Homo sapiens: one gene and its partners. The protein of the gene in region 4 purifies or fractionates together with the protein of the main gene of each other region. This does not show direct contact. Each region holds a gene or a part of one and is shown on either strand. Other genes may lie near its edges. The genes, in order: STAU2, MKRN2, ZNF777, LARP4B, HEBP2, RALY and ADPRS.

The links.
Region 1: the proteins of LARP4B (region 4) and STAU2 purify together in Homo sapiens (affinity purification with mass spectrometry; one large-scale study listed by BioGRID and IntAct). This does not show direct contact.
Region 2: the proteins of LARP4B (region 4) and MKRN2 purify together in Homo sapiens (affinity purification with mass spectrometry; one large-scale study listed by BioGRID and IntAct). This does not show direct contact.
Region 3: the proteins of LARP4B (region 4) and ZNF777 purify together in Homo sapiens (affinity purification with mass spectrometry; one large-scale study listed by BioGRID and IntAct). This does not show direct contact.
Region 5: the proteins of LARP4B (region 4) and HEBP2 purify together in Homo sapiens (co-immunoprecipitation; one large-scale study listed by IntAct). This does not show direct contact.
Region 6: the proteins of LARP4B (region 4) and RALY purify together in Homo sapiens (affinity purification with mass spectrometry; one large-scale study listed by BioGRID and IntAct). This does not show direct contact.
Region 7: the proteins of LARP4B (region 4) and ADPRS purify together in Homo sapiens (co-immunoprecipitation; one large-scale study listed by IntAct). This does not show direct contact.

The regions. Positions count from the first base shown.
Region 1 is NC_000008.11:73,551,112-73,555,400, forward strand, and holds part of STAU2 (double-stranded RNA-binding protein Staufen homolog 2), read right to left. Parts: intron 1,209-4,289; coding exon 901-1,208; coding exon of another isoform or gene 895-900; exon of another isoform or gene 1-894. UniProt on the Homo sapiens protein: RNA-binding protein required for the microtubule-dependent transport of neuronal RNA from the cell body to the dendrite.
Region 2 is NC_000003.12:12,563,174-12,567,462, reverse strand, and holds part of MKRN2 (E3 ubiquitin-protein ligase makorin-2), read right to left. Parts: intron 1-4,289. UniProt on the Homo sapiens protein: E3 ubiquitin ligase catalyzing the covalent attachment of ubiquitin moieties onto substrate proteins.
Region 3 is NC_000007.14:149,454,148-149,458,436, forward strand, and holds part of ZNF777 (zinc finger protein 777), read right to left. Parts: intron 1,891-4,289; coding exon of another isoform or gene 1,876-1,890; coding exon 1,030-1,875; intron 91-1,029; coding exon 1-90. UniProt on the Homo sapiens protein: May be involved in transcriptional repression. Inhibits cell proliferation through CDKN1A/p21 induction by down-regulation of NIBAN1/FAM129A at low cell density.
Region 4 is NC_000010.11:823,138-827,426, forward strand, and holds part of LARP4B (la-related protein 4B), read right to left. Parts: intron 2,734-4,289; coding exon 2,627-2,733; intron 2,180-2,626; coding exon 1,928-2,179; intron 1-1,927. UniProt on the Homo sapiens protein: Stimulates mRNA translation.
Region 5 is NC_000006.12:138,417,111-138,421,399, reverse strand, and holds part of HEBP2 (heme-binding protein 2), read right to left. Parts: 3' UTR 1-4,289. UniProt on the Homo sapiens protein: Can promote mitochondrial permeability transition and facilitate necrotic cell death under different types of stress conditions.
Region 6 is NC_000020.11:33,992,513-33,997,334, reverse strand, and holds the start of RALY (RNA-binding protein Raly), read right to left. Parts: upstream 3,425-4,822; 5' UTR 3,204-3,424; intron 3,131-3,203; exon of another isoform or gene 2,968-3,130; intron 1-2,967. UniProt on the Homo sapiens protein: RNA-binding protein that acts as a transcriptional cofactor for cholesterol biosynthetic genes in the liver. Binds the lipid-responsive non-coding RNA LeXis and is required for LeXis-mediated effect on cholesterogenesis.
Region 7 is NC_000001.11:36,091,691-36,095,020, reverse strand, and holds the end of ADPRS (ADP-ribosylhydrolase ARH3), read right to left. Parts: coding exon 3,196-3,330; intron 3,112-3,195; coding exon 2,927-3,111; intron 2,600-2,926; coding exon 2,499-2,599; intron 1,925-2,498; coding exon 1,635-1,924; 3' UTR 1,089-1,634; downstream 1-1,088. UniProt on the Homo sapiens protein: ADP-ribosylhydrolase that preferentially hydrolyzes the scissile alpha-O-linkage attached to the anomeric C1'' position of ADP-ribose and acts on different substrates, such as proteins ADP-ribosylated on serine and threonine, free poly(ADP-ribose) and O-acetyl-ADP-D-ribose.

The DNA of each region.
Region 1 (4,289 bases), on a different chromosome or scaffold from region 4:
AGCGGTTACAGTTCAGTACATGATTTTCAAGGCAACTAAGAAATCAAGACACAGATATTTCCCCTTCCTAGAGTTTACAATTCTTTCAAAAGCTCCAATGTATCCATAAAGGAGTGCTGATTTTTGTGGGGTTTTTTCCCAGAAGGAAACAAAGAATAAATAGGGGAAAAAAAGTTTCCATCCCTAAATTCACATACACAACAAGTTAAGTTAAACTATAAGCTAGTTTTAGACTACCCAGTGAAACAGAATTGTTGGTACTATCTGAGGCAGGTGCTACCCTCCCTAGTCAGTTCAAAACATGATCCAGTAAAACAAATACACATTGTTATGCCTCAAACAACTATAAAGCATTTCATTATTCTTCAAATATCATGTTTAATTAACTCCTAAGGTAATAGACTTCTAGAATGTTGTATCTTAATGGTGTACCTGAATCAATACTAGCAATAGAATGCAAAATTCAAAATTGCTATAAAGGTAAAATCATCATAAAAAGAAACTCAATCCTTATGTAAAAAAAGGGAGAACTGAGTGTGAAATACTAACACCAAATGTCTGAAGGCAGAATTTTTGTTTGTGGAAGACAGAGCGAAGAGATAGATGCACCTAATCAAGACCAAATAGAAGACAGTGAAGAATATGAAAAATGCTTAAAAAAGAAGAAGGAAAATGGAGAAGAGACAGGCAGCAAAAGAATTACTAGATAGATCAAAAATAAGAGAAAATGAGGCATGTGCATATGGCTTTTTTGTCTGTCCTTTGTGTTCCTAAATAACTTAAAACGTAAGTGGCATGTAGGCCATACTAGCAGGCAAGAATGAGCCTTGTGATGTATACAGATGAAGAATCTGAGGCTAATGAATTGTTTTGTTTTTTGTTTTTGCTTTTAATTCATACCTGAAAGCCTTGAATCCTTGCTAAATATTCCAGTTGTTTTGAAGGTTGTACTGGAGAACAAGGGGGAGTAGGAGAACTTCCTTTTAAACCTATGGCTTCAGCTGTAGAAGATGTTCCATTCATAAGGAGTTCCCTGGCAATTGTAGCTGAACTATTCGATGTGGGAGATATACTGAAGAAAGAGCTTGAAGGTTGGTTCATATCTTTGGGTGACAAATAGCCTAGAGTAGTGCCAGAGATTACTTTGTGGCGGCTGGCTTCCATCTCTTGATAAACATCAGGAGACAAATGAAGAATTCCTTTTGGAGCTATAAATAAAATGAAGAACACTGTTATTACACTTAAAATAACCGAAATAGAAACATAGCATTATTAACTCAATGGCTTTACTTGGTGTAGTAACAAAGAAATGAGAAACACTGCCAAACAAGTATCTTTGTCATACTGTAGAGGCAGTTGCAGCTTCTATTGAAAGGTGAATAATGTCTATTTCAATTTTCCTAAAATTAGAGGTTTAAAAACATCCAAAAAAAGTGGTTTCAATGGGACTTATGTGTAGTAGTGAAGCTATAAAGGGACAAGGGAAACTGAATGTGTGGAAGTATAATGGGGCAGAAAATCAGGAATGTGCAGTGTCTTCACCCTGCAATTTAATATTTTATATCTCATAAAAGAGGCATGAAACCCCAACACATACAGCAATTGAGGCACATCAGGTAAAATAAAGGCTGAATCAGTCCAAATTTCTTTGGAGGTACAAACGCATGTATTCAACAGCCTAGTGATCCTCTCACCTCCACAAGGATGTCCCACAGACAACTCTAACTCACGAACACATAAAAAAGCAAATGGGTATCATCTCAAAACTAGCACTGTCTCTAACTTGCTTTGCTCATACTACCATGTGGCTGCTCATGACCCAACCTAGACTCCTGGCAACCATCTCTGATTTACTCATAAGCAAGTAGTTATCGTGTTGCTCAAACATCTCAAGAATATGACCATTGTAGGGATTATCTAGTGCATTAATTCAAGCCAGGCCATGGACAGGTTCTGAAATCAAGAGGAGTGGGGGCTATGTCATTAGTTGATGGAGCTTAAACCATATTAGAGAAGCACTTTCCTTTGACTATCATTTGTCTCAGAGAAGTTTCAAACCACATTTCAAACTGCTTATTCTTATCTTTTGATCAGGTATCAATAACTCTCAAATGATATTATCTTTTAAAATTATTGGTAAGTCACCACTCATAAAGAATGTGCTCTGAGAGACACAACTTAATTTCCTGTTCTTGCCCCTTCCTCTCCTGATGCTAACCTTCTGATTCAAGCTTTCAATGTTTCTCTGCTGCTAGTATTCTCAGTGTCCATTTCCCAAAATGTGTTCTATAACATGGTCCCCAAATAAAATGGTTCCATAAATAAAAACTGAAAATAATGCAAATTACATAATACAAATGCCTTTTGTGAAATTAAAAATACACATTAGCATAGTGAAGAATCAGAAAACTCAAAGAACAAAAATCTATTCGACTTGGTTTAACTCAGGATTCCTGAGTTTACTTTTTGTCCAAGCCTTTAACATAGCATGAATAAAACAGCTAACACTTTGGGAAATGCTGGAGGCTAGCCCAACTCTCCTCTGACTCAGTCATTTCCAATGACCTGTCTTTGAGATTGATGACCTTTTCTTCTGCTTGACATTGTCTGCTATTGAATCCCTCTGGTAACTTTTTCAGTTTATGGTATTTTTTAGCTCCATGCTTTCTGCTTGCTACTTTTTAAAGTTTTCTTTTTGTTGAAATTCTCACTTTTTTTCATGCATTGTTCACCAGACCTCAGTGGGAATGTTTGTAAGGATTACTTTGAATTCTCTGTCAGGTAAATCACATATCTCCATTTCATTAGGGTCAGTTTCTGGAGCTTTATCTCATTCCTTTATTTAGGAAATGTTTTCCTGTTTCTTCATTTTTCCTTGATTCTCTGTGTTTGTGTCTGCACAAACTGGCCTCATACTGGAGAAGATCCTAACCAATCAGCCTGGACAGAGATTCTGGAGGCCTCTCAAACTTTTATGCTAGTCTAATCCACTTTCTTTGTTCTTGGCAGTCCCCAGGCATCAGTCCCTTGCTTGTCTCAGTCCCATCAGAGCTCTGAGACAAGCAAGACTGAAGCCAATTCTTCAGGCAACTCCCAGATAAGTTGGGTCATTGGATACATGGTGCTCCTCTTTGCCTCTCCAGGAAAAAGCTGAAAGCTGAAGCTTTTCAACAGTTAGCTTTGTGCTGGGCTGAGCAGGGGATGGTTACAGTGACCACCACCACCAGCCACCTCTTTCTTCATTGGCCCCGGGGTTGCTAAAATATGCCATGTCCTGTCAGCACTCTGAGACTGGCCAGACAGAAGCCAGTCCTCTGGGTAGCCCCAGAAAAGCTAAGGCATTGGATGCGTGGTATACATCTTTCCCCTTCTAGGCAGAAAGAAGCTGGGAGCTGGGGGTGGAGGGTGGTTGTCCTGATTGTATGGCCCTGCACTGTGAGGAGGGATTATGGCATGAGGGTATCTTAAATTTCCCTGCCAATTAAGATCTGGCTGGTTTCATGCTCACCCGGCATACAGGAGCCTCTTAACTGGTTTCTGGATTTCTCACAAAGAAAAATTGCCTATAAATTATTGTTGAATTGCTGTGTTCCAGGGCTTCCTATTCTACCATCTTGCCAAGGCTAGAACATTCTCTTACTTAAAGGTCTTTCACCAGTTTATCAGTTACACTATAGAACCCAAACTCCTTAGGATAACCTAGGAAGCCCTTAATAATCTGGCTCCTACTTATCGCTCTATCTTCATCTACGAAATATTTCATGAAGATCCCATGCTCCAGTTACACAGATATATCCAATACTCCAGGCTGTTTGATCCCAACACATCTTTATTTCTATTGTTCGGTTACACACATGCACATACTCTCTTAGTTAAGCTCCAACTGCTATTGTGCTAGTTAAGCTTCAGGCATCGCACCAACCAATACTGTCCTGACCTCAAGTCATGCTCAGTCTATCAGGAGAGGAACGAAAATGGATAATACAATGTGATAGGGGTCTCACTAGAGACAGGTGTATAGAGCAGTGGGAATGGGAAAGGAGAAGTGCTAAAAGCTCAGGGAAGGCTTGCTGGAGATGACGATGACAGTAAATTTCAAAGGATGAGGAGAATACAGTCCAGGAGGAAGAGGACTGAGAGCAGATGGCCAGCAGGAGCAAGGGCAGGGACCTGGAGGGTTTGTGTTCTAGGAAACCTCAGGCCATGCCTTATCACAAGAGCATACAGAGTCAGAATTGCAAATGCAGGTGGAGGCACGCAGGGGCCAAGGTCCAGGGAACTTTATCCTG
Region 2 (4,289 bases), on a different chromosome or scaffold from region 4:
CAAAGGGAGACCCTAAAATTTAAAAATTAGCCTAGCATGGTGGTATGCACCTGTGGTTCAGCTACTCAGGAGAGTGAGACAGGAGGATTGCTTAAACCCAGGAGTTCAAGGCTGCAGTAGCCATGATTGTGCCACTGCACTCTAGCCTGGGTGACAGCAAGATCCTGTCTCACAAAAGAAAAAAAAAAAGTAAACTAGTGTTAGAGTAGAAGTATTTTAGACACACCCTAATAAGGCTTAAAAAAAAAAAACACAAGCTGATAGCAAGTATATAACTTACTGTCAGCCAAAACAAACTTTAAAGGAAGACAATACAATCCAAATGCTCAGAAACTCACAATGCTTGGCATCCAATCATAAATTACTAGATATGCCAAAAAGCAGAAAATAATGTGACCTATAACCAGGAGAAAAATAAAGAACAGGAATTACAGAGATGATGGAATCAGCAAAATAAGACCTTAAGAACAGCTATTATACATATGCTCAATATGCTGAAAGATTTAAAGAAAAACATAAACATAATGTGGAGAGAAATGGATGATTTAAATAAGACCAAATACTAGGTGTGGTGGCTCACGCCTATAATCCCAGCGCTTTGGGAGACTGAGGTGGGTGGATGACCAGAGGTCAGGAGTTCGAAACCAGCCTGGTCAACATGGTGAAACACCATCTCTATTAAAAATACAAAAATTAGCCAGGTGTGGTGGCAGGTGCCTGTAATCCCAGCTACTTGGGAGGCTGAGGCAGGAGAATCACCTGAACCCTGGAGGCGGAGGTTGCAGTGAGCCAAGATCGCGCCATTGCACTCCAGCCTGGGCAATAAGAGCGAAACTCCACCTCAAAACAAAACAAAACAAAAAACAAATGAAACTTCTAGAAGTGAAAAATACAATGTCTGAAATGAGAATTACATTAGATGAGTTTAGTAGATGGGATACTACAAAGGAAAATATCAGAATACTTGAAGACACAGAATAGAAACCATCTGAGAGAGAGAGAGAGAGAAACAAACTTGCTTCTGACTACCAAGGAGCATGGATCTTGGCTTCTCACTGTAAAAAAACAAAACAAAACAAAACAAACCCAACTGAAAAATGAAACAAAATATGTGAAACAACTGCTTTCAGACAATAGAAAAAAGGACTGGTCCTTAAGAGAAGGGAAACACAGGAAGTAAGCCCCACATTTAGTCTGACTTCCTACCTGGAGGCATATTCTAGGTCTTGGTACTGGGAGTAGAACCTCAGGCAAATCACAGAGATTGAGTTTAGGGAGGCTGCAGGGATTCTTTAAAGATCCATAAATAGTCTGGGCTCAGAGGCTCATGCCCGTAATCCCACCACTTCAGGAGGCCAAGGTGTGAGGACTGCTTGAACCCAGGAGTTTGAGGTCAGCCTGGGCAACATGGCAAAACCCAATCTGTATAAAAAATACAAAAATCAGCCGTGCATGATGGCTACTTGGGGGCCTGAGGTGGGAGGACTGCTTGAGCCCAGAAGGAGAGAGCCTGCAGTGAGCTCTGTTTGCACCACTGTACTCCAGCCTGGGTGACAAAGCAAGACCCTGTCTCAAAACAAACAAAAAAACAAACAAAAAACCCTGTAAATAGAACCACACATAGGCCGCATGCAGTGGCTCATGCCTGTAATCCCAGCACTTTGGGAGGCCAAGGTGAGTGGATTGCTTGAGCTCAGGAGTTTGAGATGAGACTGGGCAACATGGTGAAACCTCGTCTCTACCAAAAAATATACAAAAAATTAGCCAGGCACGGTAGCGTGCACCTGTGCTCCCAGCTACTTGGGAAGATGAGGTAGGAGGATCGATTGAGCCCAGGAGGCAGTGGTTGCAATAAGCCAAGATCATGCTGCTGCACTCTAGCCTGGGTGACAGAGTGAGACCCTGTCTCCCAAAAAAAAAAAAAAAAAAAAAAAAAAAGGTAAGTTGGGGAAAGAATCTTTTCAACAAATGATGCTGGACCCAAAATCGACTTGGAAAAAACTTAAATATGTACCTGCTGATATGACCCAAAATGAAGTATAAAACAACCTATGACGTATTCTAGCCAGAAACAATTAATTTGAATCCACAAAACTCCAGATCTAACATCCAGTTCATAGAAAATACAGGAGACTGGGGACAACCTATGAAAGACATCTCGAGAAAACAACCAAATAAATACAAAAGAGGCTGTACGTGGGACCTAGGCCTACTGTCTTTATAAGTGCCATGTAACTAAAGGAGGCTGAGTTTGGAAGACAGTTTGACAGTTTCTTAAAAAATGTAAACATAAATCTACCATATGACCCAACAATTCTACGCCTAGGTATGTACCCAAGAAAATGAAAATCTATGTCCACACAAATACTTGTACATGAATGTCCAAAGCAGCACTATGCATAACAGCCAAAAAGTGGAAACAATCCAAATGTCCATCAACTGATGAACAGACAGAGAAAATGTGATTTATCCATACAATGGGCTCTTATCCAGCCATAAAAAGGAAAGAAGTACTGGCACACACTACAACATGGGTGAACCTTGAAAACATTACGCAGAGTGAAAGAAGCTGGACACAAAAGACCACATGTTGCATGATTCCATTTATATGCAATGTCAGAAAAGGCAAATCTACAGAGACAAAAAGTAGATTAAGTGGTTGCCTAGGGTTGGGAGGAGAGAAGTGAGGGTGACTGTTAATGGGCACAAGGGATCTTTTGGGGGTGATAGAAATGTCCTAAAATTTAACTGTGGTGATGGTTGTACAACTTTGTAAATTCATTAAAAAGTTTTGCACTGTACACTTCAAACAGGTAAATTTTATGGTATATAAGTTATACCTCAGAAAAAGCTGTTAAAAAAGAGAAAAAAGGGAAGGGACAATGCTAGGTTAGCAGACAGAACACAAGGGACATAACCAGATGCAATACTTACCTCTGGACTAGAATCTGGTTTCAACAAACCAGATACAAAAGACATTTTTGAAACCAGATATTTTGAAAGATATTTTGAAATAAATGTGAGTATGGACTAGGTATAAAATGAAAATTTATTAATATGGAAAGTTAAACACAATTAACTGAGAAGAGTAGATTATAAAACAGCTAATGGTGCAGCTTCTATAGAAAAACAGTACGGAAGTTCCTTAAAAAATTAAAAATATATTTACCATATGATCCGGCAATTCCACTTCTGGGTATAGACACAAAATAATTCAGGCCAGGCCCAGTGGCTCACGCCTGTAATCCCAGAACTGTGGGAGGCCGAGGTGGGTGGATCACCTGAGGTCAGGAATTTGAGACCAGCCGGATCAACATGGTGAAACCCCATCTCTACTAAAAATACAAAAATTAGCCGGGCGTGGTGGTGGGCGCCTGTAATCCCAGCTACTTTGGGGGCCGAGGCAGGAGAATCACTTGAACCTGGGAGGGAGAGGTTGCAGTGAGCCAAGATCACGCCACTGCACTCCAGCCTGGGCAACAGAGTGAATCTGTTTCAAAAAAAATAGAAGACTTCAAAGTAGGGACTCAAACAAACATTTGCACACCCGTGTTCATACCAGCATTATTCACAATAGCCAAAAGGTGGAAGCAACTCAAGCGTGCGCTAATGGACGAATGCATAAACAAGATGTGGTCTATCCATACAATCAAGCTTAAAAAGAAAGGTGATTCTGGCCGGGTGTGGTGGCTCACACCCGTAATCCCAGCACTTTGGGAGGCCGAGGCAGGCGGATCATGAGGTCAGGAGTTCAAGACCAGCCTGGCCAACATGGTGAAACCCCGTCTCTACTAAAAATACAAAAAGTAGCCGGGCATGGTGGCAGGTGCCTGTAATCCCAGCTACTCGGGAAGCTGAGGCATGAGAATCGCTTGAACTCAGGAGGCGGAGGCTGCAGTGAGCCGAGATCGTGCCACTGCACTCCAGCCTGGCGACAGAGTGAGACTCCGTCTCAGGAAAAAAAAAAAAAAAAAAAAAAGAACTAGACAACAGGAGGGAATGGTATGCAAGGAATGCCAGGGAGGCCCGAGAGGCCCAGACTGCTGGTGTCTCCAGAGAAAGGGTACTAGTGAACATGCTGCACATCCGCCCCAATCAGAAACCTCTGACTTCTCCACCTGTTTCTCTCCCCAAAAGCAGAGGAAGTGCTGACCAGACCTACCTGACAGTTTATTTTTTTCCCAGGGAAATTATAAAAGGATATTCTAGTATATAAGTCAGTCTCTCATGCGTTTGGCTAGTATGAGCCACCTCTATGTACACCAACAGAATCAAATTTCTGAGCCTAC
Region 3 (4,289 bases), on a different chromosome or scaffold from region 4:
GTTCTTGTAGAGCTCCTTCTGCCACTCAGACAGGTTTCCCCACTCCTGCTCCGAGAAGTGCACAGCAACATCATCAAATGTGACAGGGACCTGAAACCACACAATAACTCGGCTCAGACCCGCTGGAAGGCAGTGACAGGCCCACGGCTGGCCAATCCCAAGGCCCAAACTCCTGGCTCTGGGCCTTCACCTAGGACTTTTCTAGAAGTCTGGCCACTGTCCTGGCCCCAAAGAGTGAGGGGCCTGTCTTGTCGGATCCTTTTCCTCCCCTTCAGGATATAATTCTTGCAGCTCTAAAGCATGGTCTGTGGACCAGCAGCAATGGTGCTACCAGGTAACTTGCTCAGACCCCACCTTAGACCTACTAAATAGCTTCTGCATTCAGTAAGATCCCGGGGAGATCCATGTGCACAGTAACATTTGAGACATACCGGGCTAGAGAACAGAGTCTGTTTTCTCCCTACATATGGCTGTGAAAGGGGGCAGCAGCACTGAAGAAGAGAAAGCAAGCCAGTCCACACTCAAGCTCTTTCAGAACCTTCTGGAAAATAATATGGAAACCTAACTTCTCTAGCTTTTGAAAGGAAACATCTTGAAATCAGTTTTCCTGGCACTAACATGGCTTATAAGTGAACTCATAAAAATGTGGAGTGGGACAGATCCTTGTGATGTTTAACCCAAGCTCCTTCCTCTGCTGCAATTGTGAAGCTAATGCACCCTCAGTGACTGATGGTAAAGCCTCTCCACGGCTCTCATCGGCCTTCGCTTTGCCTTCGTAGTCTCTCACACCATGGACAGCTCTGCTGAACACCCTTCCAAACTGACAATCCCCGATCCCAGGGGCATTTCTGTACTAGCCTATACTCTCATCAACAGGAGAAATAATTTGATTTTGGCATGTCCTAGCAACTGGGATCACTGTATTTTTTCCTTTATCAACCACCCCTTTCTTTCATATTACACTACATTCCTAAACCACACTCCAATTCAGATCACTTCCTTGGGAAGCCCCAGTTGGGATGTGCTTACCTTGGGAACTTCTCCATTGCTGCCGGGGGGCAGCCGCAGGATCCAGAAATTTCTGTTTTTCAGCAGGTTCTCCATGTTCTCCAGCCGCCTCTGCAGCAGCCCATACTCCTGCAGCAGGGTCCCCAACACGACCCACTTGCTCTCCAGATGGTTCGCGAACTCCACGGCTGTCTTCTCGCAGTCGGCTATCTTCTTTTCATTTGTCCCCGTCCTGCCTTCCAGGGTCAGTAGCCTCATGGCCTGGGCCTCCAGCTTCCTCTCCACTGCTTGGACGGCAGCCCACACAGCCAAGCGGGTGATCTCTGCCGTGGGGAGCGGCTGTTCCTTCTGGACTGCAGAAGAGATCTGGAAAGGGGTGTCCTTTTGGGAAACCGGGCTCTGGAGCAGCGGGTCCATGTCAGTCTCGGGAACTGTTGGGGAAAGGGTCAGGGGGTCTTTCTCAGGAGCTTCAGGGGAGTGAACGGGGGCTTCCTGGTGGTGGGGGGAGTGGGAGAGAAGGGAGACTTCTTGTTCAGCAGCAGCTGGGGGTGGATACTGGGTCCCTTCCTGGGAAGCCAGGGGGCCCTGGAGAGAAGTCTCTTGCTCAGAAGCGGCAGAACACAGGAGTGAGGGTCCCTTCTGGAGCACATGTGGCATCCGGCCAGAAGTCTCTTGCTTGGGAGCACTGGAAGTTTGGGGCAGGGAGCCTTGACGGGGAATGGTGGGAGACAAAGAAGGAATTTCTTTGGGAGGAAGAACGCGGGATTGGAACAGAGTTTCTCGGGGGAGTCCAGCAGGGGCCTGACGTAAGGTTTCTTCTTGTGGAACACTGGGGAACGACAGAGGTGATGAGCGTTGGTTCTCCATGTCCAGCTGCTGAACCTGTGTTCATGGAAGAAAGGAAAAGAGGATTAAAGGCCACAGTCTCCAGCTAGCAAAATAAAACCCAAAGACAAGTATACACATAAAAAGTGCTTCCGTTTGGTAGCAATAATATGTGCCCCTCATATGTGAATCTCTTCTAGAGACCACAGCACCAATTTAGACATCAATTATACCACTATTATGAACCGCAAATGAAAGATGATTATGCTACCTTTTGTTTCTCACAGAGCCATCTCCTTTTTCACAACATACATTGCACGGGTACCTTACGAACAGCAGTGTGGGAGAGCGGAAGGGTGCTGGACTCCTGTTAGAGCTTTTGGCCCTGTCTACACCTATTGCCACCTGTGTCACTCTGGATCGGTCGTTTGACCTCTCTGTTCTTAGTGTCCTGTGTCCTCATCCATAAAACGAGGATAATAATATCTGACACACACACTACCTGAGTTGTTGAAGCACTGAACATAAAACTTTGAGAAACAAAAGAGCAGAATTTTGTAAAAGCCAAGCACTTACTATCCCACATCTCCCAGCAGGGGTGGGGGGCTCACCAGCAGGGGCCAGAACTGTTAATGTTCTTAACTGGAAGGTGGACTTGGCATCCAGCCACCACCACTTCTACCAGCATTAGGCCTTTGTGGTGCCCTGGGTTCCTTCCTTCGCTTGGTCCAAAAGTGAGGACATGACATTATCTGAAGTTTCCCAGACTCTTACTCTTTGATAACAGTTGCATTGCAGACTCATATCAATGAGTCAGTATGGTATATGTATGTTTGACTTGGAAACATCTTCTATGTGCCCGGCCCCTGCTGTAGAGGCTGAACGGGCTTCTGGGTATTCTGGCCTGGCTTCTGCTATAAGCAGAGCGAGACATCGAGGCAGGTGAAGGCAGGCAATTCAACCACTCCTAGGAGTGGGCAGCAGTCCATTGCAGCAGGTGTGCTCAGGTGGTCTGGGTTCCACCCTGGGGTTTCCGACATGGGGAATGAGGAAGTAGTGAGGCCTGGAAGGATGGGGAAGTAGAGCAGAAGTCAGCTGGACTGGTGACTTGTATCCAGATTTGGGGGGACTAGACCAACATAAAGACTTGGAGTCCTTCTGGGATCTCAATGACCCACGCTCTCCTTGTTCCTCACCCTGCCATACTCACATCGAGAGAATTCCTGAATCACTGGGGAGGCGAAGCCACGATCTTCTGTGAGTAACTAGTTATGTATTTACCTAGATCATCAGTATCTTTATTGGAACCTAACACAATTTCTCCTGTAACAATTTCTGTCCACTCCCTCATCATCTTCCTTCAGTCAATCTGCTCAGTCACTATGCTCTATATCCAAGTGGTCTTTAATTAAAATTTCAATTTTCTTCCGTTGAAAATTGGCATAGCCCCAGTGTTCAGTCTGACATATAGTATGTGTTTGATAAATGCCGGCTGAAGAGTAAATTGTTGAGTTACAAAAAAATTATTAGGATAAACAATGACGTTCCTTTAGTCACCTATCAGAGACTTATCTAAAGCAATTCCATATCTTCTACAGCTTTTTTCTTTTATTGGTTCATTTATAGGTGACTTAACTGTGACAGCATCACACTTTTAAGCCACGGATTGAATATTCAAGATCCTATTCACAAAAGGTTTTTGAGATAGTATCGTCTAATAGCCTCTGCCGCGAACCAGACATGAGCGCTAATCAGCTGAGAATGGCTAACAATTATCCAGCATTTATTATGTGCCATGAGCTGTGTTAAGCATTTTAAAGGATTATCTCATTTAATCCTCACAAAATCTATGAAACAGGTACTACTAGAGTTACTATCCATACTTAGTACAGGAAGACACTGGGGACAGGAGAGACTAAGCAACTTGCCCCAGGTCACCCAGTGGTCTGGTTCCACAGCCTGCAGGCTACCTTGAGGCCTTAACTGTCAACTGAGGCAGCTGGCCAGGCAGGTGTGTGCTCTGAATCCTTTTTACCTCTAAAATCCCGAGGCCTGGATATTATTTATACACAAAGACCTGTGGCAGGTTTGATAGGGTTGGGAGAGGTGGGGAGGAAGGCCTTGCCTTTAGAGATATTATCATTTAAGTTGGGGTCAGGGACCTCTTTGAAAACCTAATGAAAGTTTTGGGTTCTTGTCCTCAAAAAAGACAAAAGGGCACATACACAGAATTTTGCAGACATCTTCAAGGAGCTCACAGACCCCTAAACCTGCAGGCTCATCAACAGCTAAGCCACCTCTGAACTCTTCATTCCCTGTGAAGGAAGCGCTGGGGGCCCTGGAGGCTAGGCGCCTGGCTCTCAGGGAAAGTGACTGCCTAACGCAACACAATAGGCACATTACAGCCCTTGCCTTAGAGGGAGATTAGGGTATCTGCCTAGCACTAGAAAGAAGAA
Region 4 (4,289 bases):
ACAGGCTGCAGGAGTTGCATGCGCTTTCCCTGCCCACCACTTCCTAAACCACTCCCTAAACCACTGGTGCGTGCTTCCTAAACCACTCCCTGCCCACCGTGCCCATGCTGGTGTGCGCTTCCTAAACCACTCCCTGCCGCAGTGCTCAGGTCTCAGGTGGGAGGACAGTTGTCCTCCCTTGGTGGGGAGAGAGAGGGTCTCCATTGGTGCAAGATCTGCATCTGTCAGGCAAAAGCATAAACTTGTTACAGTTGCATTTGGAAGTTCAAGTATTGTTGAAGGGTATCCTGGGTAGACCACATTCGTCAGCAAGCTTTGGACTCTCAGCTTCAAAGCCACCTGTATACATTTTGTGAGGTAGCTGGAATTCAACAAGCCCCACTTTCATTTGCCAGGAAACTCCTTGTGACGCTCGTATGAACAAGGCACACTGAAGAGCACAGGAGGCTGAGGCCGGGGGGCCTTGTCCATCTAGTCTGCCTCCTTCCACACCGTGCCCACAATTGATGCCCCTCAGAGGGAGCCACATGGCCTTGATGAGTAGGGCTCTGTCCCAAGTCTGAGCCCCAGCTCTGCAACCCTCCTCCCTCCAAGCGTCTGGGTCTTAAGAACCCCAAACTGAGACCCAGGGCTAGCAACTGCTCCCTGAAGTCACTGACTCTCCATGACACGGTGGGCCCCTTTTGGCTTTGCATCTCCAAGGCCTGTTGAGCCAACCTGATGCCATGTTTCCTGTGAGACACAGGCCAGTGCCAGCTCTCCCAGACCATGGTGCCTTCCAATGCCACTGCACAATCCCTGCAGGAACTCCTATGTGCTCATTGAATCATTATGGGCAGGAATGAGATGCTTCTGATGCCTCTTCATGTTGAATTCTCACTGCACAGAGGGTGTGCACTGTGGCAGGCAGGAAGAGGAGCTTGCACGTCAGGGATGGTGCTGTACACATTGTATATAGAACACCCTGAAAAAGCTCAGGTATTTGAGTCACTTGTTTGTCACTTATGAGAGGAAAATCCTGACGGTCCTTACCAAGGCAAGGACTGAGAAGATCAACTGGCCTTATCAACAATGGGCAGGTGCGGTGGCTCATGCCTGTAATCCCACCACTATGGAAGGCTGAGGCAGGAGGATGGCTCTAGGCCAGGAGTTCAAGACCAGCCTGGGCAACACAGCGAGATCCTGTCTCTACAAAATATTTAAAAACTAGCCAGGCATGGTGGTGTGCATTTGAAGTCCTAGCTTCTCAGCATGCTGAGGCAATAGGATTGCTTGAACCCAGAAGTTCAAGGCTGTAGTGAGCCATGATCATGCCAACGTACCCCAGCCTGGGCAACGGAGTGAGACCCTGTCTTAAAAACAAACAAACAAACAAACAAACAAACAAAAACCTACTACAGGATTGATGCCAAAAAAATGTTAAACAAAACCAAAAATGGTGGGCAGGAAGCACAGCTAAGACCCGTCCTGGCTAGTCTCAACCCTCCAATGAGATGAGACTGCAATGCTGATCTGCCTGGTTACCCGCTCCAGGCTCCACCTGCAGTGCCTGGTGCACACCCAGCTGGAGGGCGCCAGGCCAGCAGCCATGGGGCAGAGCCTGGACACCGCCCTTGCAGAGGGGCCTGGTGAGCCAGGGGTGCTGCCAAGAGGAGACTGCAGGCACATGGGATGGAGTCTATGGCTATTGAGCTCCAGTGTTTCTACAAATAATGATCTAAAACAACTACAGTTCTCACTGAACCATTTCATATTCCAAAAAAGATGAAGCCATTTAAGTCTTAGCAATTATATAAAACCCTTATGTTTATAGCCTTCAGTTAGATTTTCTGTGACATATTTAAAGACAATTACAAAACATATCTAAATTAAATAATTTTTAAAATATTAGTTTATGATGTTACACAGTAACTGCTCAACAACTCACCTTCCCCTCCCTAAACCAGGAGAGGATTCGAGACTGCCTGGCTCCACACGCCCAGGCCCAGCCTCTCTCTTGGCATATGCTGAAGGGTTTTGAATCCGTGTTCTAGTTTGACCTGCTTGCCTTGTTTGTGGACTCCGGACACCATTAATTAATCGATCTGCAGTGAAGTTAAATATTGAAGGACTTTCTAATAACCCAGGTCCCCTCTCTGCACTAGGAATCGCATGCCGCAGATGAGATTTACTAGGATTCCTGTAAATAAAAATGGTTTTATGTGTTGAGTTATAAAATGATCAAGGCATTACATAACATGCATACTGACATGGAATAGCTAAGCTGAAATCTGCTCTCTGTTTAATAAAGTATAAAAATAGGATTTGGAATGGTTAACTCCTAACATATAGGATAATGCAAATCTATTAACAATGTGCCACAATTCTGCTTAGCTGTTTTTCAGTCCAGGCCCAAATTAAAATCAGGCACACCTGATGTGTACAAGTTGCCCCAAAGCCTCCTCTCAGAGAATCTGAGGCGGGCACCCATGCCAGATTGTAGTGCTTAGTCTTTACAGAATGCAGCTGTGTGCTTCAGGTGGCTCTGTCTGCGAGGAGCAGGACTAGTGATCAAAGCTCTCTCATCCCAACTCCGGAAGGGCAGTAGCGTAAAGACCAAAACTGCTAAGACCGCCCCGGAACTTGCCTGCTTCGAGGAGGATACTGTCTGAGAGAAGTCAGAGGAGACGCCGCAGGCTTGAACGCTGGAGACGTAAACCCATTTATAAATCCAGTATTTGGAAATGGAGTTACCTAGATTCATTTGAAAACAGACAAGTAAATAAACCATAAAACAGACTTCAATTTCATTAATACCAACAAATCTGTGGAAACTGAGGGCATTTCTTGATGTTGTCAGAGTCATGACCCATGCTGAGACATGTATTTTACAATTTTATCACCAATGGGTGCTGTTTAGAAGTAGGCTGGAGCTTTTGTGCATCCTTTCAGCCAATCCTTACAACAATCCAGCGAGGAGAACTGACACATGCGGAAGCAGGCACTGAGAGGAAAGACGTGGTCAAGAGCGCATGGGCTCCAACAAGTGTTGTAACCTTTAGCATGTCAGTCTGATACGACCTCCATCACTGGCAGGAAGTCAACAGTTCTTGATTCCTGATGGCTTTAATACAACTCATCAACATTCTCAATCTTAGGAGCACCTGCACACCCACTGCTGCTCACTCGGCTTCATCCAACCACAGCCTGACAGGGCCTTTACCTTTACCCCGACACAAGTCCTGCTCTGCAGATCAGGGTATTTTCAGATCATCATTATTCCCCAAGTCACAAGGTAAGTATGGCATGCAAATATACTAACATAAGATTCAGAAGAAATTAGAAAGGGTCACAGAACCCCTAAAAGATCTTAAGTAGTTAAAAATATTGAGCATAGAATTTTAAGTATCGGCCAACTATTTTTAAAATCTAGACACATACAAAAATAAGATAAAACTTATTGTTAAAACAGTTCCTTTAAAAACAAACAAACAAACAAAACTCAAGACCATTCATTCTAATTCTCTGGCTTCTGGACCCATGGTTTCCAATACGTTCTGCATCACTGATATCTCGCTCCTTATGCTCCTGACACAGGGCACTTAGTTCCTGAGGGCCTTCCAGTCCACACCCTCAATGTCACTAAAGTGACAGAGATACGCATAGAGCCCTCCTTGTTTGGAGGAAGAGAGAAAGGAAAGGAAAAAAGCAAGTAATTCTCCTTAATTAGAGCTAACTGGAAGATATAACAGAAAAAGAATATTATAGCTTAGGACTAAAATAAAATCATACAAAAGGGAAGTTAGAATCTTCAATTTGCTACTTGAGAAACTCTTCACTCTGTAAGAATCGGACTTTTTAAAATACATCACACATGGCCGGGCGCAGTGGCTCATGCCTATAACCCCAGCACTTTGGGAGGCCAAGGGGGGGCGGATCAAAAGGTCAGGAGATCAAGACCATCCTGGCTAACATGGTGAAACCCCGTCTCTACTAAAAATACAAAAAAATTATCCGGGCGTAGTGGCGGGCGCCTGTAGTCCCAGCTACTCAAGAGGCTGAGGCAGGAGAATGGCGTGAACCCGGGAGGCGGAGCTTGCAGTGAGCCAAGATCCGGCCACTGCACTCCAGCCTGGGCGACAGAGAGAGACTCTGTCTCAAAGAAAAAGAAAATACATCACACTTGAAGAGCCATGAATGCAGACCTGGATCTGAGGCTGTAAATCATGGGCAGAGCAATGAGGACTAATCATTTCCAGCAAGTCATTTTACAGACAGAGCCCTGATATTCCAGTAATTTTGCTCAAGAT
Region 5 (4,289 bases), on a different chromosome or scaffold from region 4:
CTGTGGGGGTGACTGTATATTCCTTAGGAGAATCACAGTGAAAAGGAGACGTTTCTGTGTCTCCGTCTTTCTCCCCACCCACCACTGGCACCCTGCTCTGTGGTGGCATCTTAGGAGGAGAGGGGAAAGAGTGGCTTTCTTGGTTCTGCCGTAGTAGGGGTTCAGCCTGCATGCGATGCTGATTCCATCATCAAATGAGCACAGCAGCATAATTTGCTTTGGCAGATGTGAGGATGTTGTTGGGGGAATGGAGGGTCATTTGAATGAAACATGGACCTGATTGTTGCGCCACTTTCCTTAATAAGCCACTCGGTAACTGTAATACAGTTTCTCTCAGTTGCCTGCTCTGACCTACCTTCCACAGCGGCCAGCCTTTATTCACAGAACAAGAGGTAGAGCAATCTGTAGTCATTTGTTCAGCAATGGGGGAAAAAAAGTCCTAATAAATGCTTCTCATGTGCTAGGTAAAGACAAGGAGGCCCAAAGATAGAAAACGTGGTTGAGCTATCAGTGAGGGGCATGATCCTACTGCCAGTTTAGATTCTTCAAGAAGTAGACAGTTAGAATACCAAAGGATTTATTATTGGAGTAAGCACCTTTGAAAGGAAAAGAGGAAGCAGGACGAGGCAGGGAGAGCAGGCGAGCTGCCATCCCAGGGGAACTCTGGGAAAAAGGTCACTCATTGGAGGAGTCCTGTGTTGGACTGAAACAGTTAGGTCCTTGTACCATGGCCTTGCTTGGTCTTTGGCAAGAGGGCCCCCTCAGAAAAGCATGCTCTCAATTTCCATAATTTAGTGAAATCATTGGCCACCAACCCCTCCTGTCTTGAGAATAGCGTGACCTCAGCTTGAAAGCTAAGGTGGATCCTGGTGAAGTAGCAGCTGGTGGCTGCCAGCTACCCACACTCCTTGCAGCTGGATGGCATATCTTGTCTTGAAGGGGGATCTAAGTGGCACCGCTCTATGCCTGCCATGGTCCACCCCTTGCCTATGTGGATCCATTTTCCCAAAAACACGCAGAGAGTGACTGTTTCAGGGCGCCAATGGACCTCTCTTCCTGAGGATAAATGTTGAAAGAGGAGTTTGGTAGGACCAACTATAGCACCTTCCTGCAAATGGTTTTGGAACCACAACTGGTCCTCATTACTCCCTGCTTCATTCTAAATTCCCCTCACCCACAACTGTCATCTTTGCTGGTCTTGGTGGCTTTTTTGATAGTATAAACCAAGCTCTCATTCCTGAGGGTCCTGAGCTCCTGGGAGCCAAACCCTTCTCAGACCAGGGTTGCTGCACTAGTCCATTCAGTTACAACTGGGCAAGGAGTACAGAGGGTGCCTCCAGTGGGTCCGCTAAGTTCCACACACATTGCTCTCGCCACTATCCTCTGACAGCAGGCTTGCCTCCTCCTGCAGTTCAGGGTCAATTACCCTTGACTAGATGGTGACTTCTTGCCTACTGGTCCCTGAACACAGAGTCCAAAGTGCCCACATAGTAGCAGCAGACTGTAGTTCAATGGGATTCTTGCAATATTGCCTAGAGAAGGTATACAGTCTCTGAGAACTAGGACTTCTGATGCTGTAGAACCTGGAGTTGTGGGCATGGGAAGTACTAAGTCCCTCAGTGGTTCGTTGGGTGCGATGGTAAGTGGGGTCACTCCTGCCTCCACTCCTTGGTTCTGAAATCTATATATTCCTGTTGTAGACACAGCATCATACAGGCTTTCTGATTCAATAAGTATACTGTGTGCAGGAGACGGTGGCACATCTTGGCAGGGTATTGTCTCCCACCTGGCACTAAAGCAGGCCATGCCAACATTCCATCAGTCTAGCAGCTTCTAGGTGGCGCAGTATGTGATAGGAGCAGTGGATCCTATGACCGCTGGCGAACTCTCCCTGATTGGGTGTTAACATGTATAGATCACGTATTCAGCAAATCTACGCTGACAGTTCAGATGTTTTGTAAGTCCTTAGATTGTGTTCAGGACCCTGTAGGCCCGAAAGGAACCACATACCTAGAATAGGAAGTCTGTCCTTGTGTGAATAAACTGCTGGTGCTTCTAGGAAAGAATGAGCCTACCATAGTGAATTTGCTATCAAGCGACCAGTTGGTCTTCACAGCCTCATCAGGGTCTCAGCATTGGTATTTGTTGCAGGCAGGTTGGATAGTCACAGTGAGCAGTGTCTAAGTTGGCCTTGGTAAGTGGGAGCCCATGTTGGTGGGTTCCATCCATAGCCTCCATCTTTGCCACCACTGCCACTTTATGTGTGCATTTTACCAGCACTGAGGTGGGCACTGGCAAAAGCTAATAGAACAGGCTAAGTCATTTCATCTACTTGGTTGTTTAGTGCCTCTTCTCTGGTGGGTGCTATCTAGTGGGCATTAACATGTGATACAGTTTTTCAACTTCTGTGTTCACTCCATATGCCCATCCACATGCCTCTACCCCAGACCTCCTAATCCATGTTTTTTTCCTCCCAAACTCCTGATCAGCTGGCAGGCCATTTTCTGCCACTTCCATAAATATTTTACCTGTCCTCCCTCACAAGGTGAATGATCCAGTGTACCTCAAAAAATTCTGCCCAGTTTTTGCAGGAAGATTGCAATTTTTTTCCCGTTTTTCAATGTCACCTTTGAGTGAAGGTCCATTTTCAGCTTGCAACTACAGAAGATAACTAATCAATAAACCAAGCCCAAGCATTCCTCTTCCTTCAGTGGATCATACAGGTCCTCCAACAACCACAGGGAGGGGGGATGTAGGTGCCACTGTGCAGACATGGCGGTTGGAGTAATTGCTCTTGCAGTTTGCTTATGTCCTCTGGTCTGGCTTGGAACTGCTCCTGTACATATCATTTCCATCTTCCAATGGGCTGCTGCCGATCCTACTAGCTTATGACTTAGTGCTTCCCACAGGACCTAGTTAAGATGAGCAGTTCTGGATACAGCATCACTGGGTCTCAAAGTTCCGTGTCTACCAGGGCCCAGTAGCACAGCAGAGGCTGTTTTTCAAAAAGCATATGATCCTCTCCTGTGGTTAGAACCACCTTCCTTCAGGGCCCCAGGGACCTGCACTGTGATTCTCTCATTGGGCCTTGTCATCTATTCCACACTGCATCTTCTTTCCCCCTACCTCCAATACATAAGATCTGCCACATCACATAATTCAAGCTGCTAATTTCTTCATATCTGTCACTTCTGGTTCTACTTCTAATGATTACCCTTTTTTCCTAATTATGGGCCATAATTTATATTTCTCTGTTTCCAGTAATTTTTTACTGAATGTTGGTAATTATGAGTGTTATGTTGTTTGTTGATGGATTTTGTTATATTCCTATAAATGGTATTGGGTTTTATTCTGATTCACAGTTAAGTTTCTTGAAATTAGTTTGATCCTTCCAAGGCTTGTCTTTAAGCTTTGTTAGGGGAAGTCCAAAGAAGCCTTTGGTCTAGGGACAATTTGACCTCAGTACTAAGGCAACACCTGTTGGAGGACTCCACCTGATGACCCATGCATTATGAGTTATTTCTACTCTGGCTAGTGGAAACACAAACTTTTCCCAGCCCCATAGATGATCTGTAAATTATTTGCTCTACTAATTTCCAGTTACTCATTTCTTGGCTTAAGTAGTTTCTTCTAACACCTTCACTCAACCAAGGACTCCAGGGGACCCACTGCAGATCTACAGCACTCTCTGTCTGTGTGCTGCTGCCTCCTCTCCTCTCACTTACTCACCTTGGCCTCCGGTGACACTGATCTCCATCTCCTCAACACAGCAGGACCACTGGTCTCTGGCTTCCCTCTCCCTGCTTTGCTGCCTAGAAACTGCCTCCAGGCCATTCGCCTGAGCAATCACTGGACTCACCTCATTATTCCCCCTTCTCGCAGAGATCACAGTCCTGTACTATGAACTTTCAGTGTCTGAAAACCATTGTTTCATATATTTTGTCTGGGCTTTTAGTTGTTTAAGAGGGACAGGTAAATTGGGTTCCCAATTCATCATCATGGCCAGAAGCAGATGTTCACCCGAGGTGCTTAAAAAATACTGTTCAAGGCAATATTTATTATGGTTTACTGCCCTGATTGGAGGAGAGGGAGTTTAGAAGCTTATACTCTTTCCCCACAGGTCAAGGAACAAATGTAGGGGTTATTCTGCCTGCCAAGGATGTCAGTCTCAATTATACATTCAGGGATTAGGCAGATAACCTGCAGGCCCAGGAGATCTGCTGTAAGCCAAACTTTGATTAGAACTACGTTTACTTTCTAACCTCTGTATGCTCCCATTTTAATGGGAG
Region 6 (4,822 bases), on a different chromosome or scaffold from region 4:
GAAGCCAGCCTGGCCAACGTGGTGAAACCCTATCTGTACTAAAAATACAAAAATTACCCAGGCGTGATGGTGCATGCCTGTAGTCCCAGCTACTCGGGAGGCTGAGGCAAGAGATCCCTTGAACCCAGGAGGTTGAGGTTGCAGGGAGCCAAGATCGTGCCACCGCAATCCAGCCTGGGCGACGGAGTGAGACTCCGTCTCCAAAAAAAACAGGGTATAAGGTCTCTTCTGCAGATACTGGGGGGCCAGCAGAGATTCAAAACAGGCTTCAGTGATACAGAACATCAACCTAAGGGGGAGAAAAGTAGGTCTTACTCAGAGAGGCCTGGGTTCCTGCCCTGGAGCTGCATGCCACATCTCTGCTGCAGGTGAGGACTAATAATTTTGCATTTACAATGCACTCTGAGACTAAAGAAGACACTAAGTGTGCCAGCTTTGCAGGCACAAAAGGACAAATATTGCATGATTCCACTTACATGAGGTTCCTAGAGTAGTCAAATTCACAGAAAGTAGAACGATAGTTTTCAGGGGCTGGAGGGAGGAGGGAAGGGGGAGTTAGTTTAATGGGTACAGAATTTCAGTTGGGGAAGATAATGGACAGTGATGATGGTTGCATAACCATGCGAATGTATTTAATGTCACATAAATGTACACTTTGAAACGGTTAAATGGTAAATTTTATGTTATATATATTTTACCACAATTTTTTTTTTAAAAAAAGCATGCCAGCTTTAAGGTTATACTGTCTGCAGTCTGAATACTGCCATGGCCACTTACCAGTTACATGACCCTGAGGCAGGTAATGTAACCTCTCTAAGCCTGTTTCTTCTATAAAACAGGGATAATAATAGTACTTAATTCATAGGTTGCTCTAAGAATTAGTAATATAGTCCATAAAGTCCTCAGTCCATTGACTGGTGGTACACGTTAAGTACTTAATAAATTTAGCTATTATTACTACCACTATAAAGCACTTTCATAGCCATTTTCTTAACAATCCCCACAACAACCCTATGAGTTTACAGATAAGGAAACTGAGGCTCAGAGAGCCACAATGAGTGGCTCAGTTTATGATGTCAAATCAAATCCTCTGCTCCAGAGAGGTGTCTTGTCCTCACTACTTACTCATTCTGTCATCTAAGGCAAGTGCTATGCTGTGTCTCCATTCCCTCACAGTAAAAAAAGAGACATAAACCAAGCTCTGCAAACTACCTCACAGAAATGGATTAGAAATTAAATCAGATAATGGTTATGGAAGAGTATATAAGCCATAAACACATAAAACCGAAGTGGTGACTTACGAGAACTAGTACACCTGTGCTTAAACCTGGCCTCCTCTTAATACTAACCATAAGGCACAGAAAGGGGTGGGGACTATAAAACTTCCTTGGGATTTCCAATTACTCAGGATTCCTGACCTTAAGACCTGAATAAGTGGTTTCGTGCCCTTTTAAGAAGTGGCAAGGTATGGGAGAAATAAAAATATTACTGGATTAGGAGGAAGAAGACTGGAAATTTTAGTTCTCACTCTGACACTAAGGCAGTCTGAATTCAGACAACTTACTTCCCCTTTCCAAGGTTCAGTTAACAGGGAAGCGGGGAAAGGCAGATATGAAAAAGTTGGACCAGATGGTAAGACCCCTTTCAGCTCCCACATAGGACTCGTAAATCCAGAATCCTGGCCAGGCACCACAGACGTACCAGACTCCAAAGAACTAATGTGAACATCAAGAGACTCCTCAAGACCTGGCCCAGAAACTCCCTTGCCTGATTTTTAGACACTCCCTCCAACCGGATCACATTGAAAAACTGGAACATTTGCCAAAGTTAATTTTAGTTCACTTTAACCACTCTGGGCCTTATCTGAAAATAGGAGTAATATTTGTTTGAAGGCAGATGACTTGAGCTACTCCCCCTAACCCCCATCAAACTAGGATCGATAAATCTAAACACAGAGAACCTGCAAGGTCTGGGAGGAGGAACACACCACACACAAACTAAAGGGTGGATCCCACCGTTTACAGTCTCAAAGCTTCCTTGAGCCAAAACCCCAGGGAATTTGAGTTGTGTCTGAGACCTGGAGTCTGCATCCATCAACTTCTAACTGCCGCAACACTAGCAAGGAATTCATCCAAACCTTTCCCTTTAGAACTATGGTAACCCCAGAATGGGATTTCATCCACAGTATAGTGGACAACGGCCCAGAAGTCAGGGAAAACCCAGAGTTATGCCCCTAATTAAATGGTGTGACCCAAGGCTAGGTAAAAATACCCTCTGCACTAAGAGATGATACATGCTCACACCAGGAAATATTAATAAATAATAGGTACTGGCACCACTCCTTTGCACTTCTGTGGCTACTGTGACTTGGAGAAAATTACTTGACCCCTCTGCGCCTTAATTTCTGCTTTTGTAAATGAGGATAAACCAGAAGGCCGTTGTGAACATTAAATGAAATAAGGCTTGGGAAGTTCCTGGGTGAAGTCTCATTAAATGTTCCCTGTCGGTGTTAAACACTTCTTTCACATATTAGTTCCCTCCCTGAATCCACGAACACCCCGCAAAGCGAGTTTCCTTCTTTCCCCCCATGTCACCGAGAGGCAAACTAAGACTCGGCCGCCAAGGAGGCTGAGTGAAACGCGGATACGGCCCCAGTTCGAGGGCCCGTTGTTGTTTCTCTCCGAGCCCAAGGCGTGCAAAGAGCCCAGAAGAGGCGGGAGCCGAGGCAGGACAAGCTCTGCGCGCCTCCGGGAGCCCGTAGACCCAGTCCGGGTTAGGAGAGCCGGAAGCAGCCGCGGCCGGGCCCGCCTGCGGCCTCCCCGGAGCAGCCTCCGTTCCCCTCCCTCCGCCCCTCGCCGGGCGGGGCGGGGCACGAGCACAAAAGACTCCAACTTCCGAGCGGGCGCGGGCCCACCCAGCCAACTACTGGCCCAGACTTGGCCCGCGGAGAGAGCAGACAGGGAACGCCGGGAGCAGGACCGGGCGCGGAGGGCTGGGGCCGGGGACCCGGGGCGGCGGGTCCGAGTGGGAGAAAGGAGCGGCGGAGGGGGCCTAGAGTTACTCGGGCTCCCGGGACTCCCCGAAGGGCAGAAATAAGTTTCTAAAAATAGGCAGCGGCCTGCCGGAAGAAGTGAGTGAACGGAAAGGCACAAAGCACACACCCTCCCCGCACCCCTAAGGAGACGCCCGCAGTCCCCACTCACCCGCGCCGAGAGGTCTGGAGGAAGCCGCGCGGCTGGGAAGGAGGCGGTACTGCCGCACTCGGGGACGTAAGGGAGGGAGGAAAAGGGCGGCTGCGGCGGGAAGAGGCTGGGCACACGCGCGGGAGTCGTCGTCGTCGCCGTCGCCGCCGCTACCGCCCCCTCAGCTTCTCTGGGTTCCGCTGCCCCGAGCTGGCGCCGCTCGCGCGCCCCGCCGCACTGACAGCGGCGCGAGCCCCGCAACCGCGAGCCCTGCCCTCGGCCGGCACCACTGAGGCGCGCGGGGGTGGGGGCACCCGGAGCGGCTCCCCGCAGCTCGGCTCCGCCCGCCGCTCCGGCCCTGGTTCCGGGCTCTCCTCCTTCTCTGTCTCCTGGGAAGGACACGGTGACACGAGCACGAGGAGTCTGCAGCCCCGCCCAGAAACAGCCCGGCTTCCCAGGCGCATGGGCTCTCCCCACCCTCTCAGCCTGGCTTTGGAAAGGTCCAGAGCTTCGGCGGGGACGGGAGGAAGGCGGGGCCAGGGTGGGGCCTGAAAGGGAGGAGGGACTGAGACGCGGCTTGGGGAGGCGGGGCTGGGGCGGGAAGAGGGCAGCTTGCACAGGTTTGGAGCCGAAGTAGGGGCGGAGCTAAGATGGTGATGAGGCCCTGGGAAGAGGGTCGCCGGACCAGTGGGGAAGGCCGTGCAGGAGATGGAGAGCCGGGAACCAGGACAGCGCTTGAAAGGAGATGCTGTGGGCGGGGCTAAATGGAGAATCGCCCAGAGGGCGGAGCCACGGGTGGAGGGAGGCGGGGCTGAAGAGAAGCTTAGAGTGGGAGGAAGATGGAAGCGGGCCTGAAGGAGGCGGGCCCGGAAGCAGGGAGGGGAGGAGGGGCCCCGGGGGTGGCTACTCTGGGCGGGTGCCGGAAGGAGGCGTGCCCCAAGGAAGGACTGAGGGGTGGTGCTTGAGGTGGGCGGGGCCTGGAGATGGCGCTCAAATCTGCAGGCTGTGGGCGGTGCAGGAGGGATCCGGAAGAGACGAGGCAGGAAGAAACTCCTGGTCCTTTCGCTTTTAAGGAACGTGCCACCTAGACAAGGTGAGGGTCGCTCTTCGCTGCCTAATCTGGGACTGGGCGGAGAGGCCGCGCTAAGGGTGATCTCCGAAAAAGATGCAGGAGATGTTTTATAACTTGATCCAGGTGCTAGTCCTCTCTCCTACACATTTCTCCTGTCGGGATTTCTCACTTTCAGTGTTCCAGCCTCCGGTGAACCAGTCTTCCTAGTGAGAGCACGAGAAGCCCGTTGTCCTTCATTCCTCAGCTATGGATTTCCCTGAAAGTTGAGAACTGACCATATTCTCGATGCCTCCTCCGACCTGTGATTTCATGACTCACATCGCTTCCCCAGAACCTGCTTAACAGACGGGATTCCTGAGAATGGAGCAGAGTTTGAATTCAGAGTCCTGGCTTTGCCATACCAGCAGTTATAATTGTCCTTCTGTTGTTTGATGACCTCCCTGCCCTGCTTCAAAAGGAAGAGAAATCAAAGAGTTGACGACCCTGAGCGCAAGGCCTGGGACGTTCTTCCCCAAACTCGCTTTAATATCACCTTCTCAAAAGAACTCTTCCCTGAACACCTTGTCTC
Region 7 (3,330 bases), on a different chromosome or scaffold from region 4:
GAAACCAAAGGCAGGTAGTGGCTGGAGCTGGGGGCGATGGCTCAATCTTTACTGGAATATTCCTGCAAGCTCTCAGGGCTAGTGGAGCATGACAGCTGGCTCAGTAGTCCGAGGGCCAAGTTTCAACATCTGATACAAATTATGAATGAAATCATGAATCTTTGCTCCTAAGGGCTGGGCTAGTGTCAGGCCCAGTGCTGAAGACAGGCTGGGGGAGCTGTCCTGGGCGGAAAGCACCTGCTCACAGCCTGCCATGCTCAGCCACGAAAGATCTGTCCCTGGCGCTGGGGGTCTGGGTGGCAGACCTGAAGCAATCTGTGTTTTGAAGAGTCCTCAGCCTAGCCAGAACCCTATCTTCACTAAAACAGATCTGCCCGAGAGTGCTGAAACCGCAGGGCAGCTGCAGACTGCACATGCTCGGCTAGCCACTGAGGCTGGATGCTCAGAGAATGTCCCTGGAGTTTGAGGGGAGGCATCTTCCCCCTTTCAATTTTCCCTTCTTCAGAATGGATGCTAGTCTCAGATACTTGGGAACCCATGTGGGAGGATCGCCTGTGCAATAGAGTGAGACCCCATCTCTAAAAACATGCTGTGTAAAACTTCCTTGCAGGGAAAGGCTTTTGATTGGTCCCAAGATACAGGAGGAGGCACACGGCACTCAGTCCACCCGGGGCCCCGTGATGGTGCCCTCCCCACCCAAAGGTTGGTAGTCTGATGATAGCAGGGCCCTCTGGATCCTTCTACAGGGTTCCTGTTCCTGGCCCAGCTGGGCCTAGCTCCTGTTTGGGGAAGTCAGGCTCTGAGAACAGAAAAATCTGGCTTGTTCCTACCCGCTGCCTCTGGCAAAGCACTCGGCCCAGCAGCCTGGGCCACTTTGAGTGATCTCTAACAGGAAAAGCCACCAGACCATGCCTGCTGTGCCCTTCCTGGCTGAACACGCAGCCAGCTGGAGTGCCTGGCAACACAGCAGCTCATGGCCTTGGGGCCCCAGCTTCTATGACAGTGCAGCACAGACAAAGGCACTAGTCTTCAGAGATCAGGCTGGCAGGGGAGAATCCATTCAGGGCAGGAGAAACAAGAAACAGTGGTGAGATTTACCAAAAACTGTTTATTGCGACTTCCACTGGAAGCTGTTAATAAGCCACATGGCAGCCAAGAGCCAGGTGTGACCTAGATCAGCTGGATGCAAGTGCCTGTCCCTTCATCCACACAACCTGCTGCTCGGGGACCCTGCTAGGATGCGCTTGCTGGCAAACTGGCTAAAACCCAACAGGGAGAAATGATGCTACTGCTCATCATTTCCACCTCCCCACATCCCATGTCCAAGACAATACAGGAAAATGCCACAAGTACCCCTCCAAAATAAACCCGCCTGCGTCTGTCTGTCCTACTGAGGAGCCAGGAGTGTCCTACGGCTCTGCAGCAAACCAGAGACCCAGCACCAGCGAGGCACCAGTCCCTTGCTCGCTGTTCCAGTGACCTCCCCTGCAGAGACCCCAGCCTCACCGGTGTACTCAGTCAGCTCCACAATGCAGGAAAAGTGGGAAGCCACACTCAAGGAAGCGCAGGGTTTCTGATTGGAGCTGTAGTTGGTCCCAGGGGACCTGGCAGAGCCCCAACAGCTGTAGCCCTCATCAACTCTTCTGGAAGACACGGTGCAGGCTTTGGGCCAGGATGTCTGTCTCCTCGTAGCCTTCACAGCTTTGCTGCCAGCTCTCTGGCACCTGATCCATCCCATAGTAGGCACCAGCAATGGCCCCAGCCATGGTGGCAATGGTGTCTGTGTCCCCACCAAGTGAGATGGAATAAATGAGAGTCCTTTGGAGGCTATTGAAGGCAGAAGGGATCTCAGGGTCTGGCTCCATGCAGCGTAGGAAGCAGTAGATGGCGGTGGGTACCGACTCAAAGGCAGCAATGCCATTCCCTGTGGGGAAGCCAGGTTAGAGGGGCTGCATGCTTCCCCAGGCCTCCTACCATTTGACACAAGTCAGCACTCTCGGCTTCAAGCAGGCTGTGACTAAGATCTCAGGCTCTACAGTTAGACCACCTGGGCTCAAATCCTGGCTCCACCACACACTGGCTGCGTGACTGGGAGAGTTACCTAGGGGACCGCTAAGCTTCCTGCTCCCAGATTCAACTCCTTAAGCAGACAGGGAGTAACGTTAGCAACTCTCTGACAGGGCTGTTGTGAGGATGAAGCGAGATCGTGTCTGTGAAGCATTCTGCACAACGCCCAGTATAGATGCTAGACAAATAAAATCCATTATCAACATTTTTACGACTAGTGGCCAGCTGCCATTTCTGGGGACACTGGTCCACAAGGCTGAGGGTGCTGTAGCTTCAGAGCAAGAAGCGCTGAGCTCAACCCTGCCATTGACTCCGTGTCACAGCAGCCCAGGGTACAATGCGACGGCAGGCATGACTCCATGCTCCCCTGAGCCCAAGACCGACCCTGAAGGACGACAGAGGGAGAGACAATCCCAGGCAGACCCACTCACCTAGCTCAGACACCACTTCCTCCCTGGTCACCGATGCCTGGTCTAGAAGCTCTCCAATCTTCTTCAGGCGGCTGGAGTATGGACGCTCCTCCATGCCCAACCTGTGGTTTAGGGGAGATTTCAGGGAGGTCAGAGCTAGCAGGGTGGTGGCGCGGGCAGGGGAGAGGGCTGCATGTGAGAACGAGCAGGGATGTGGTCAGGCTGGCAGCCAGGCACAGGTGCCGACAAGAGGTGGGAGAGGGCTGGGGTGAGCAGGTCGTTTCGTTCTCTGGGACCCTGAGAGCCTTGAAACATAGACAAGATAAAGGGGCTTCTGCCCATGCCTCCCTAGGGTCTGCAATTGAGGAAGGTTTACAGTTTGCGGCAATGCCAGAGGCCCCCTGGATCACCCACATACCCACACCACACACCTCCAGCCCCATACTCACTCCCTGGCATCCAAGACGGACTGGGCATCACCCTCCAGATCCTCCATGTGGCCCAGGAGTTGCTTGAGAAAGTGCTCGCTGGAAGACTCGCCCTGCAAGGCCAGGTGCACAGCCAGGGCCTGCAGGATGGCGCCATTGTAACCCAGGGAGGAGGCGTGTGTCAGCTGGGCCGAGAGCCGGGCAAACTAGGGAGGAGGAGACCTGCTGTCACAGAAGCCCTGCTGCAGAAGAGGAAGGGGACAGCCCAGAAGCCAGCCCGCCCTGAATACCTTCTGCACATCCTGGACACTGCTATAGGCCAGGGAGATGCCAGCCACCCGCATGGCACCTCCATTGCCATAGGAGCCTTTCCCGTTAAACTGGGCCCGGGCAGGCTCAAAGACATCGCGACATTTGGGGTTCAG